2 separate regions of the Homo sapiens genome follow, and region 2 is linked to region 1. A link means that fine-mapping ties the variant in region 1 to the plasma level of a protein whose gene starts in the linked region. Region 1 holds a variant in brackets. A gene starts in the other region. All regions are shown on their reverse strands. Region 1 overlaps NEK4 (NIMA related kinase 4). Region 2 holds the start of MFAP4 (microfibril associated protein 4).

The links. A credible set is the group of variants that fine-mapping cannot tell apart. PIP is the posterior inclusion probability: the model's chance that the variant is causal. Protein levels are from antibody-based Olink assays in UK Biobank. Linkage for the fine-mapping came from a reference panel and not from the study's own genotypes, which makes the PIPs less certain.
Region 2: MFAP4 starts here. The variant in region 1 is the best candidate, but not a certain one, in a credible set for the plasma level of the MFAP4 protein (UK Biobank, PIP 0.53).

What each region holds. Positions count from the first base shown.
Region 1 is chr3:52,735,437-52,740,809 of GRCh38, reverse strand. NEK4 (NIMA related kinase 4) reads left to right here. Exons shown (of 16, transcript NM_003157.6): 14 at 1,176-1,381; 15 at 3,091-3,224. It also overlaps the pseudogene LOC100499399. Among named protein-coding and RNA genes, the nearest start is that of SPCS1, 32 kb to the right of the region's middle. The variant C/T (reference allele first, on the strand shown) is at 2,224.
Region 2 is chr17:19,384,496-19,389,868 of GRCh38, reverse strand. It overlaps MFAP4 (microfibril associated protein 4), which reads left to right and starts at 2,679. Exons shown (of 6, transcript NM_002404.3): 1 at 2,679-2,719; 2 at 3,031-3,109; 3 at 3,405-3,559; 4 at 4,415-4,511; 5 at 4,588-4,770; 6 at 5,160-5,373. The coding sequence starts at 2,714. RefSeq lists enhancers at 2,754-3,299, 3,300-3,845, 3,846-4,391.

The sequences.
Region 1 (5,373 bases):
TTTATTTATTTATTTTTTGAGACAGAGTCTAACTCTGTCATCTAGACTGGAGTGCAGTGGCATGATTTTGGCTCACTGCAACCTCTGCCTCCTGAGTTCAAGGTATTCTCCTGTCTCAGCCCCGCCGAGTAGCTGGGATTACAGGCACTCGCCCAGCTACATTTTTGTATTTTTGGTAGAGACTGGGTTTCACCATATTGGCAAGGCTGGTCTCGAACTCCTGACCTCAGGTGATCCGCCCACCTCGGCCTCCCAGACTGCTGGTATTACAGGCATGAGCCACTGCACCTGGCCTGTTTTTACTTTTTTTCTGTTTCACATTTCATAGATTCTATTGCTATGTCTTTGAGTTCATTAATCTTTTCTTCTGCAGTGTCTAATCTGTTAATCCTATCCCGTGTATTTAATATATTGTATCTTTCATTTCTAGAAATTTGATTTGGGTCTTTTTTTAATGTCTTTGTGTCTCTCTTTAACATGTTCATGTTTTCTTCTACCTTGGCCATATGGAAGATATTTATACTACCCATTTTAATGTCCTCATTTATTAATTCTATCAGTCGTGTCACTTTTGGATATGTTTCTATTAACTGATTTCTTTCTCTTCACAAATGTATGATATTTTCCTGCTTCTTTGCCCATCTGGTTATTTTTGATGGGATGCTAGACACTGAATTTTACCTCATTGGAAGCTGGTATTTTGTGTTTCTTTAAATATTCTTGAGCTTTGTACTTGAGTATAGTTAAGTTACTTTGAAATAGGCAGAATTTGTACACAGAATCTGGGGCTGTTTCTTTTAGACTGTCTCCAAGGTTCCTGTCTCACTTTCTAGTGACAGTGGTTGTTCTGAACTCTGTCCTTTCTGTAGGCCCACAAGATTGTGAGTTCTCTTGTACTTTGATCTGCCTATGGCCTGCTCTTAGGCTTAAAGGTGTTGACTCTTCTCCAAGATCTGCCTGCAGATTTTGTTTATTCTGCATTCCCTTTACGTTGTTGAGTTTTGTATTTTTTCTAGAGTTTATAGTTGTTATTTGTGGAAGGGTCAGGTCAGTCTGTAGGAACTTACTTGGACATTTCAAAGGATAATTCCCGAAAGGTCGTTTTGCACGTAATTTTTTAATGAAAAATTCTCATGAAGCCAATTAAATAACAAAGGGATATTTTTTTCCCCCAGGAAAGGTCAGACAAATGAAATTAATGCCTTGGTACAATTGATGACTCAGACCCTGAAACTGGATTCTAAAGAGAGCTGTGAAGATGTCCCGGTAGCAAACCCAGTGTCAGAATTCAAACTTCATCGGAAATATCGGGACACACTGATACTTCATGGGAAGGTTGCAGAAGAGGCAGAGGAAATCCATTTTAAAGAGCTACCTTCAGGTGATCAGCTTATTATTATTTTTTGTTTTTTAGACGGAGTCTCACTCTGTCACCCAGGCTGGAGTGCAGTAGTGTGATCTTGGCTCACTGCAACCTTTGCCTCCCGGGTTCAAGCGATTCTCCTGCTTCAGCCTCCCAAGTAGCTGGGACTACAGGCATGCACCACCATGCCCGGGTAATTTTTGTATTTTTGGTAGAGGCGGGGTTTCACCATTTGGCCAGGCTGGTATTGAACTCCTGACTTAAGGTGATCCTCCCACCTTGGCCTCCCAAAGTGTTGGGATTACAGGTGTGAGCCACCATGCCTGGCCTAGTTTATTCTTTTACAGCAAACTGGAGAGCATGTGTTTATTGGAGAACTGTGTCAAAACAAGGAACTAATGCCTATAAATTTTTTTGTGTTTTTAAAATTATTTCATTTGCATATCTCCATAAAAGGTATATCCTGTGTTTTGCAACAGAGGTATTCCTGAAAAGTTACATGAAAATTAATTTTTAAAAATAAATAGATAAATGTTTGTGGTTTTTCATGTGACTTTTCTTCAAGTTAGACAGTTGTGGTGTTTTTTAGGTTTAAGAGATGGTAGTGAAGCTTAAGTTCATATGTAAATTTTAAGTCATTAAACCAAACTCTTGTCAGAGGGAAAAAAGAATGTCAGTATAACAAGATTTTTAAAAAAACAGCCCTGCTGGGTACGGTGGCTCATGCCTATACTTTGGGAGGCTGAGGAGGGCAGATTGCTTGAGTCCAAGAGTTTGAGACCAGCCTGGGCAACATGATGAAAACTTGTGTCTACAAAAAATACAAAAATTAGCCAGGCATAGTGGCTCATGCCTGTAGT[C/T]CCAGCTACTCAGGCGGCTGAGGTAAGAGGATTTCTTGAACCCAGGAGGTTGAGGCTGCAGTGAGCCATGAGCATGCCACTGCACTCCAGCCTGAGCGACAGAGCAAGATCCTGTCTCAAAAAATCAGATGAAATGAAATAAAAATAAAATAATAAAATAAAATACCAAAAAAAAAAAAAAAAGGCTTGGTGTGGTATCATCATGCCTGTAATCTCATTGCTTTGGGAGGCCAAGGTGGGAGGATTGCTTGAGGCCAGGAGTTCAAGACCAACCGGGACAACATAGACCCCATCACTGCAAAAAATTTAAGAATTAGTTGGACATGGTAGTGCATTCCTGTAGTTCTGGTTACTTGGAAGGCTGAGGCAGGGTGATTGCTTGAGCCCAGGAATTAGAGGCTATAGTGAGCTATGGTCACACTGCACTACATCCCTATGACAGTGCAAGACCCTGTCACTTAAAAAAAAAAAATAGGCCGGGTGCAGTGGCTCATGCCTGTAATCCCAGCACTTTGGGAGGCTGAGGTGGGTGGGTCACGAGGTCAGGAGATCAAGACCATCCTGGCTAACACAGTGAAACCCTGTGTCTACTAAAAATACAAAAAATTAGCTGGGTGTGGTGGTGGGCCCCTGTAGTCCCAAATAGTCGGGAGGCTGAGGCAGGAGAATGGCATGAACCTAGGGGGTGGAGCTTGCAGTGAGCTGAGATCGTGCCACTGCACTCCAGCCTGGGCGACAGAGCAAGACTCCGTCTCAAAAATAAAATAAATAAATAAAATAAAATACAAAATTTTAAAAAATTGCAGTGTTCTTGCTATAGTGGTAAAAGTGTTTATTTTTCCCTTTGTCTTTGTTGTTGCCTTTTAGCTATTATGCCAGGTTCTGAAAAGATCAGGAGACTAGTTGAAGTCTTGAGAACTGATGTAATTCGTGGCCTGGGAGTTCAGCTTTTAGAGCAGGTGTATGATCTTTTGGAGGAGGAGGATGAATTTGATAGAGAGGTGAGTGTCTCATTAACTGTATCAAGATGCTTATGTTATAGAATTTTTTAAACAACCTTTTGAAATATAAATCACACATAACAATTCACTCATCTAAAGTGTATAATTCAGTGGTTTTTAATGTGTTTACAACATTGTACAGTCATTACCACAATCGATATTAGAACATTTTCATTACGCCCCAAGAAGCCCTGCACCTGTTAGCAGTCACTCCCCATGGTCCGCACTGCCAAATCTGAAGTCATGAAGATTTATTTTTATATTTTCTTCTAAGAGTTTTTTTGGTTTCAGCCCTTTTAGGTCTTGGACACTTTTTTTTTTTTAAGGAAAATTTAAACTTTAGCTTGGGCATGGTGGCTCACGCCTGTAATCACAGCACTTTAGGAGGCTGAGGTGGGTGGATCACCTGAGGTCAGGAGTACCAGACCAGCCTGGCCAACGTGGTGAGTGGTGAAAACTCATCTCTACTAAAAATATAAAAATTAGCTGGGCATGGTGCCACGCACCTGTAATCCCAGCGGCAGGGGAGGCTGAGGCAGGAGAATTGTTTGAACCTAGGAGGCGGAGGTTGCAGTGAGCTGAGATTACGCTACTGCACTCTAGCCTGGGTGACAGAGCAAGACTCTGTCTCAAAAAAAATAAACTCTATTACCTATTACCTAAAACATGAGAACTATGTACATTCTAAATCAAAAATTTAGAAATTATAGTGCCAGCAGTTAAATGTGAATCATACTCAAGAATTTCTATATTGGTAGTTTTCTTTTTTTTAAATGAAATTTCATTTTATTCTGATAAAGACTAATGTATGCCTAATCACCTAGTGATAATCCATAAGTTTGGTAATTCACAACATTTTTAGAAAGCACATAATATTAACATTCAAATAAAGCATTATAGAAAGTTTTATAAAGAATGAAGTGCTAGTTGGGCAGGGATGGGTGGGACAAAAAGAAAAGAATGAAGTGTTTACTATAATTCTTTTTTTTTTTTTTTTTATGAGACGGAGTCTCGCTCTGTCACCTAGGCTGGAGTGCAGTGGTGCGATCTCAGCTCACTGTAAGCTCTGCCTCCCTGGTTCACGCCATTCTCCTGCCTCAGCCTCCCGAGTAGCTGGGACTACAGGTGCCCACCACCACGCTTGGCTAATGTTTTGTATTTTTAGTAGAGGCTGGGTTTCACTGTGTCAGCCAGGATGGTCTCGATCTCCTGACCTCATGATCTGCCCACCTCGGCCTCCCAAAGTGCTGGGATTACAGGCGTGAGCCACCAGGCCCGGCCTGCTATAATTATTTTTAAAAACCTTGGTTCATCTTGAAAGATCAATGGATTTTTAAAATATCAGAAGAAAAGGAAAATAAATTCCCCCCCGCCAAAAATACATAAGAACCACTTACTGGCACTTGTATTTTAAGTACCTGGGAAAAAACAGGACAGATTTTTAAAGGCAATTAATAACAGCTGTTACAAGGGCTTGTTTCATTTGATTTAGCACCAAGTAAAATAAGAGTAAATATGCCACGGAAGACATAGTCGGGTTTTTCCTCCACTTCTCATATTGCCCCACTTCTCCTACTAGACCACACAGTACATCAGCAACCATCCTTGTTGCCCCACTAAGGAATCACTTTAGATTCCAATTTTTAAATGGCTGGTCAGATGACACCAGTAGAGTTCTTTCCCCTTAAGATAAGGTGGCAGTGAATGCTAACAGGTATCAATTTATTTGATCAGAAACAAACAACTCCTTCAGGAAATTAACTTACTTTCCTGATCCTTGTTAACTTATCATGTAAATTCTTTTTATTGGCACACCTGTTTACTAATTATGATTGATTGCTATTTTTGGCAAAGGAACATTCCCCAGGCATGCCTGAGCTATTTACTAATGACAAAGTGTGCTTACTTTACATAGTGCCATGGGTTTTCTCTTTTTCTCTTATTTTTGGGAGGGTTGTACAATACCTTGTTATTTATCAGGGCAGATCTCATACATTGGATCAAAAAGAGAAACTGGTAAGTAGATCGTAAAACACATTTCTTAACCTGAGTAACATCTGTAAACACAGACTTTAACTACATTTTGTTGAAAAATTCATTCAACTTTGGTGCTTATCCAAGAACTTATAATGTCCATTTCTGACATAAA
Region 2 (5,373 bases), not on the chromosome of region 1:
GTTTTGATAACTGATTTTTTTTCATTATTTTCCCTTTTATAGACTTGTGTTAAAATTAGCTGGCATTTGCTGAAAGAAGAGATCAGGATTAGATTCAGCTGTGTGTAACAGAAAAAAAAACAACAGACACTTAAAATACATAGAAGTTTCTTTCTCTCCTGCATAAAAAAGGCCTAGAGGAGGGCAGTCCAGGGCTGTTTTTGTACCGACTCCACAAAGTCGTGAGAGGCTTTGCCAGTTCCTCCTCTGCCATTCCCTGATGAGGCCTCATCTTCCTCATCCCCACTGTCCAAGGTGGCAGCTAGAGCTCCAGCCATCACATCCAGCAGGACAGAGGGCAGGATGAAGAGGGACAAGCCACCTACCTTTACAACATACCTGTTGGCATCTTGTTGGCCAAAATTCAGATGTGTGACCTCACCTAGCTACAAGGGAGGCTGGACAATGAGCCCAGATAAAAATCAGGATCTTACTACTGAGGACTAAGGGAAGAACGAGTATTGAGAGCCAGCCAACTGTCTCTTCCACAGGCAAGCATACAAGCTGTGTTGAAGACAACCCATTCATATGAGAATCATGATGTTTATGATGACGATGACGATAGCTAATATTTACTAAATAGCTGCCATTTGTAGGCACTGTTTTAGGAACTTGATATGTATTACTTAATCCTTACCACACCCCTATGAAGTAGATACTATGACTATCCTCATTTTACAGAGGAGGAAACCAAGGCACAGAGAGACTAGGTAATTTTTGCAAGGTCACCCAGCTAACAGGCAACAGAATCTAGATTTGAACTGAGGTAGCCTGACACAAGACACAACTATGAATAGAGGCAATCACAGAACCAAGTCAGGGAGGCCAACTGGGGCTTTGCCAAGGGGCTTATCTATTGACTCAGGAGTGGAGAGATGGGACCTAAGCCAGAGCTGCCTCATCACTTTGCCTTTGAATATTTCATCTGTTCATCCATTCAACACAAATGTCCTTTTGTAATACACCTTACATTTGCAATTCACTGTCCAAAACCTGTGCTTGCCACTCCTTGTGGGGCAGATACTGTATCCTCAGCAGCCAGCATAGCCTATAGCACACAGCGCTCAAAAGATATCTGTGAGCCAGGTGTGCTGGCCCTGTAGTCCCAGCTTCTTGGGAGACTAAGGTGGGAAGAACATTTGAGGCCAGTTCAAGACCAGCCTGGGCAACATAGGGAGACCCCCCCCATCTCTACAAAAAAATTAAAAAATTAGCTGGGTGTGGTGGCACACCTGTAGTCCTAGCTCCTTAGGAGGCTGAGGTGGGAGGATCACTTGAGCCCAGGAGCTTGAGGCTGCAGTGAGCTATGATTGCACTTGGGCAACAGGGCAAGGCCCTGACTCTAGTATCTTATCTATATATAGATATAAATACGTAAGTGACTGTGCATGTACATATCAAGCCTACTCTGTGCCAGGCTCTGTGATGGGCACTGAGCATGCAGAAATGAGACACACACCCTGCTCACTGGCCCTTATGGCCAACAAAAGGAGGCAGATGAGCGGGCACCACAAGGAGCAGCACAAAAGAGTGGGGACCTCCATGGTGAAAAGTCTGGAGTGGCTGCACTGTAGTTTATGAGTCACAGCAATAAGGGACAAGGTCCTCAAGGTAGGCCAGAGACAGACTTGAAATTCCTTTCATGTCCAAGGTGAGAAACCTAGCCTCAGCCCTGAGGCAATAGGGAGCCATGAGGCTTTAAGCAGGGTGACATAATCTGAGAGGCCATCTAGAACAACTCTCCTGGTAGTGTGCCAAGGATAGGAGGAGAGAGCCCAGAAGTAGGGAGATTCAGATGAATCTGGGAGGTGTGGGAGCCAAAGTGAAGGGTTTGGAAGAAGAAAGGAGGGGTGGAGTGAGGAGAAACAAAAGAGGTCCCATACCTATTGCATGTGAGCCAGATGGGCCAGGGAACTGTGGGAGGGGAAAAGAGTGGGCCTGAGGTGGCCAGAGTGAGGGGGGCTGGGGAGGGGGACTGGAGAGGGGCCCTGGCCTGAGCTGGGGCAGACAGAGCAGTTGGACGCCAGCAGCCTTGTGCTCATGGCTCAGAAATGTCCCAGGCCTGCCAAGAAACTGCTGCCTCTGTCCCCCCACCAGCCCCAGCCAGGCTCCCACATCAGGAGCTCTGAAACTGTCCCCTCAGCCTTCTGCTCCCCCAGAGCAGGCCTCCCGTCCCCAGAAGCCAGGCATATGACACCCCCACTCTCCCTCAGCCCTCCCCCTCAATGGCTGATGAAACACAGGCCAGGGAAGGAGGGGAAAGAATAAACAGACATCTGCAGGGGGGCCCATCAGGAAGTAGGGGGCAGGCTGCGGCGGGCTGGGGCTGCCTGGGGGCGCCAGGGGGCCCACAGGTCTAGCAGGGTGGGTGGCAGATGGCGGATAGCGGATGGAGTGGGATCCAGGGAACAGTTGGAGCCAGCAGGGAGTTAACGTCTGCAGTACTTTGCCCGACAGGACTAATGAGACACAGGTGGTCCCCTGGCTCCAGCCCCACCTCCCAGCCCCCTGATAGTGTAAACTGATGCTGGTTGTCTGGGGTGGGGAGAGGGGGGTTCTGCAGCTACGGGAAGGGGGGCGGGGCTGGGGCGGCTGGCGGGGGCCCAGCGCATAACTCTGGGCGGTTGCAGTCTGGGGCCGCAGACACCCAGCCACTCTGAGCAGAACTGACAGCATGAAGGTACGGGGCCCAGGGTCGGGGGACTCATAGCATGGGGGAACTGAGCCCACTCCAGAGGCCCCTGGCCACAGAGGGCACTATGAAGGCACAAGGAGTTCTCTTGAAACTCGTAAGCTATGAGGGTACACAGCGTCCCAGAGAGTGGGGTTACTTGGCGGGCGGGGTGGGGGGGCAGGGAAGAGGGGCCAAATAGCAGGAGAGGGATTCAGGCAAGGGCAGTATGTGCATGCATGGTGGGGGCAAATGCAAAGAGAACAGGGGATCTCTGGAGCTGGGAAGGGGCTGTGCTGACCCTGTCTGCCCATCGCCAGGCACTCCTGGCCCTGCCGCTGCTGCTGCTTCTCTCCACGCCCCCGTGTGCCCCCCAGGTCTCCGGGATCCGAGGAGATGGTAAGCAGCCCCACACTCACAGACGCGGCCTGGCCCACAGGTTGTGCAAGAAGAGGCTGGACTGTCAGAACAGACTGTCAGGGCCGAGCCCCAGCTCTGCAGGACTCAGGTTCCTCCTTTACAAAATGGGGCAGATGGATGACATAAGCATTGCTCATCTCCCTTGAAGAAATCTTCCATGACTCCTTGTGTCAAAGTCCCCCAGCCCCAGGGACTGAGGCAAACCTTGGGGTGCTGAGGTGTCAGTGATGCCATAGTCCCACTCTCCTCACTGTCCCCATGTCCCTACCCCCAGCTCTGGAGAGGTTTTGCCTTCAGCAACCCCTGGACTGTGACGACATCTATGCCCAGGGCTACCAGTCAGACGGCGTGTACCTCATCTACCCCTCGGGCCCCAGTGTGCCTGTGCCCGTCTTCTGTGACATGACCACCGAGGGCGGGAAGTGGACGGTGAGTGGGAGGAGGGAACAGAGGCCAGAGCTGGTTCTAATCCCAGCCCTGTGACCCTGGGCTTCACATATGCGAACCTCAGTTTCTTCATCTTTAAAATGGGGATAATGATACCCACAGCACAGCTTCTGAGCAGCTGCCAACGCTTAATTCTAAGTGCCTGAGGTAGGTGTTTGTTTGTTTGTTTTGAGGCGGAGCCTCACTCTGTCATCCAGGCTTGAGTGCAGTGGCTCCATCTCAGCTCACTGCTGGAAACTCCACCTCCCAGGTTCAAAAGATTCTCCTGCCTCAGGCTCCCGAGTAGCTGGGATTACAGGCATGTGCCACCATGCCCAGCTAATTTTTTTATTTTTAGTAGAGATGAGGTTTCACCATGTTGGCCAAGCTGGCCTTGAACTCCTGACCTCAGGTGATCCGCCCGCCTCAGCCTCCCAAAGTGCTGAGATAACAGGCGTGAGCCACCGCGCCCAGCTGAGGTAGGTTAATGCACATAAGCCTCACAATAATCCTGGGAAGTAGTGAGGAACTAAAGCCCAGAGAGGTGAAGTAACTTGCCCAGATCCCACAGCTAGGCACTCGAACTCTAGAACGCCTCCCTCTTAGCCTCTTTCCTGCCTCTATACGAAACTGGGTATGAAGAGCCCAGGTGGGTGCTGGCAACTGCTCCACAGGGGGCCTGGTGCCAATGTGGACGTTGTTTTAGCAACCCCACTCCCACCACCCTCCCCACCCCCAACCCAGTCCTTTAACAAACTGGCCACAGCATCACAGGGTCCATGCTTGAGGTGGGCAGGGCAGGACCAGAACCTTGCCCATTGGACCCTTGATGATCCAGTCTCATCTTCTCTGCTCCAGGTTTTCCAGAAGAGATTCAATGGCTCAGTAAGTTTCTTCCGCGGCTGGAATGACTACAAGCTGGGCTTCGGCCGTGCTGATGGAGAGTACTGGCTGGGTAAGGCAGGGACCAGGTGGGCTGAGGGGCTGCCCCAGGGCCAGGTCCTTGTTGACCAGCTGCCCCTCCTCCCCAGGGCTGCAGAACATGCACCTCCTGACACTGAAGCAGAAGTATGAGCTGCGAGTGGACTTGGAGGACTTTGAGAACAACACGGCCTATGCCAAGTACGCTGACTTCTCCATCTCCCCGAACGCGGTCAGCGCAGAGGAGGATGGCTACACCCTCTTTGTGGCAGGCTTTGAGGATGGCGGGGCAGGTATAACCCGCTGTTAGCTTTGGGAGGGGCTGTGAGGGGAAAGAAGGCAGGGCTGGCCCTGCCCAGTCAGCCCCAACCTCCTTCAGGCCCCTCCTTCAACCCTTCTGGATCTGGAAGGGCCACAGCTGGCTCCAAACAAGCTCAAACCAGCTTGGGCCTCAGCCCTGGGGAGCAGCCATCCTGGCCCTGCTCCAGGCAACTCTGTGGTGGAGCAGCTGTTTCTCTTCATTGCAGAAGCACATCAACCCAACATCTGGCTCAGGGAGGGTGCCCCCATCCCGCCAGGCTGCCACGTGATATCTCTCACAGTCGTCATTGTCACCCTCTCCCGGCCAGCTCGGGGCTCAGTTCCCTGCCTCAGCAGCCCCAACCCTTCTCTCCTCTGCCAGGTGACTCCCTGTCCTACCACAGTGGCCAGAAGTTCTCTACCTTCGACCGGGACCAGGACCTCTTTGTGCAGAACTGCGCAGCTCTCTCCTCAGGAGCCTTCTGGTTCCGCAGCTGCCACTTTGCCAACCTCAATGGCTTCTACCTAGGTGGCTCCCACCTCTCTTATGCCAATGGCATCAACTGGGCCCAGTGGAAGGGCTTCTACTACTCCCT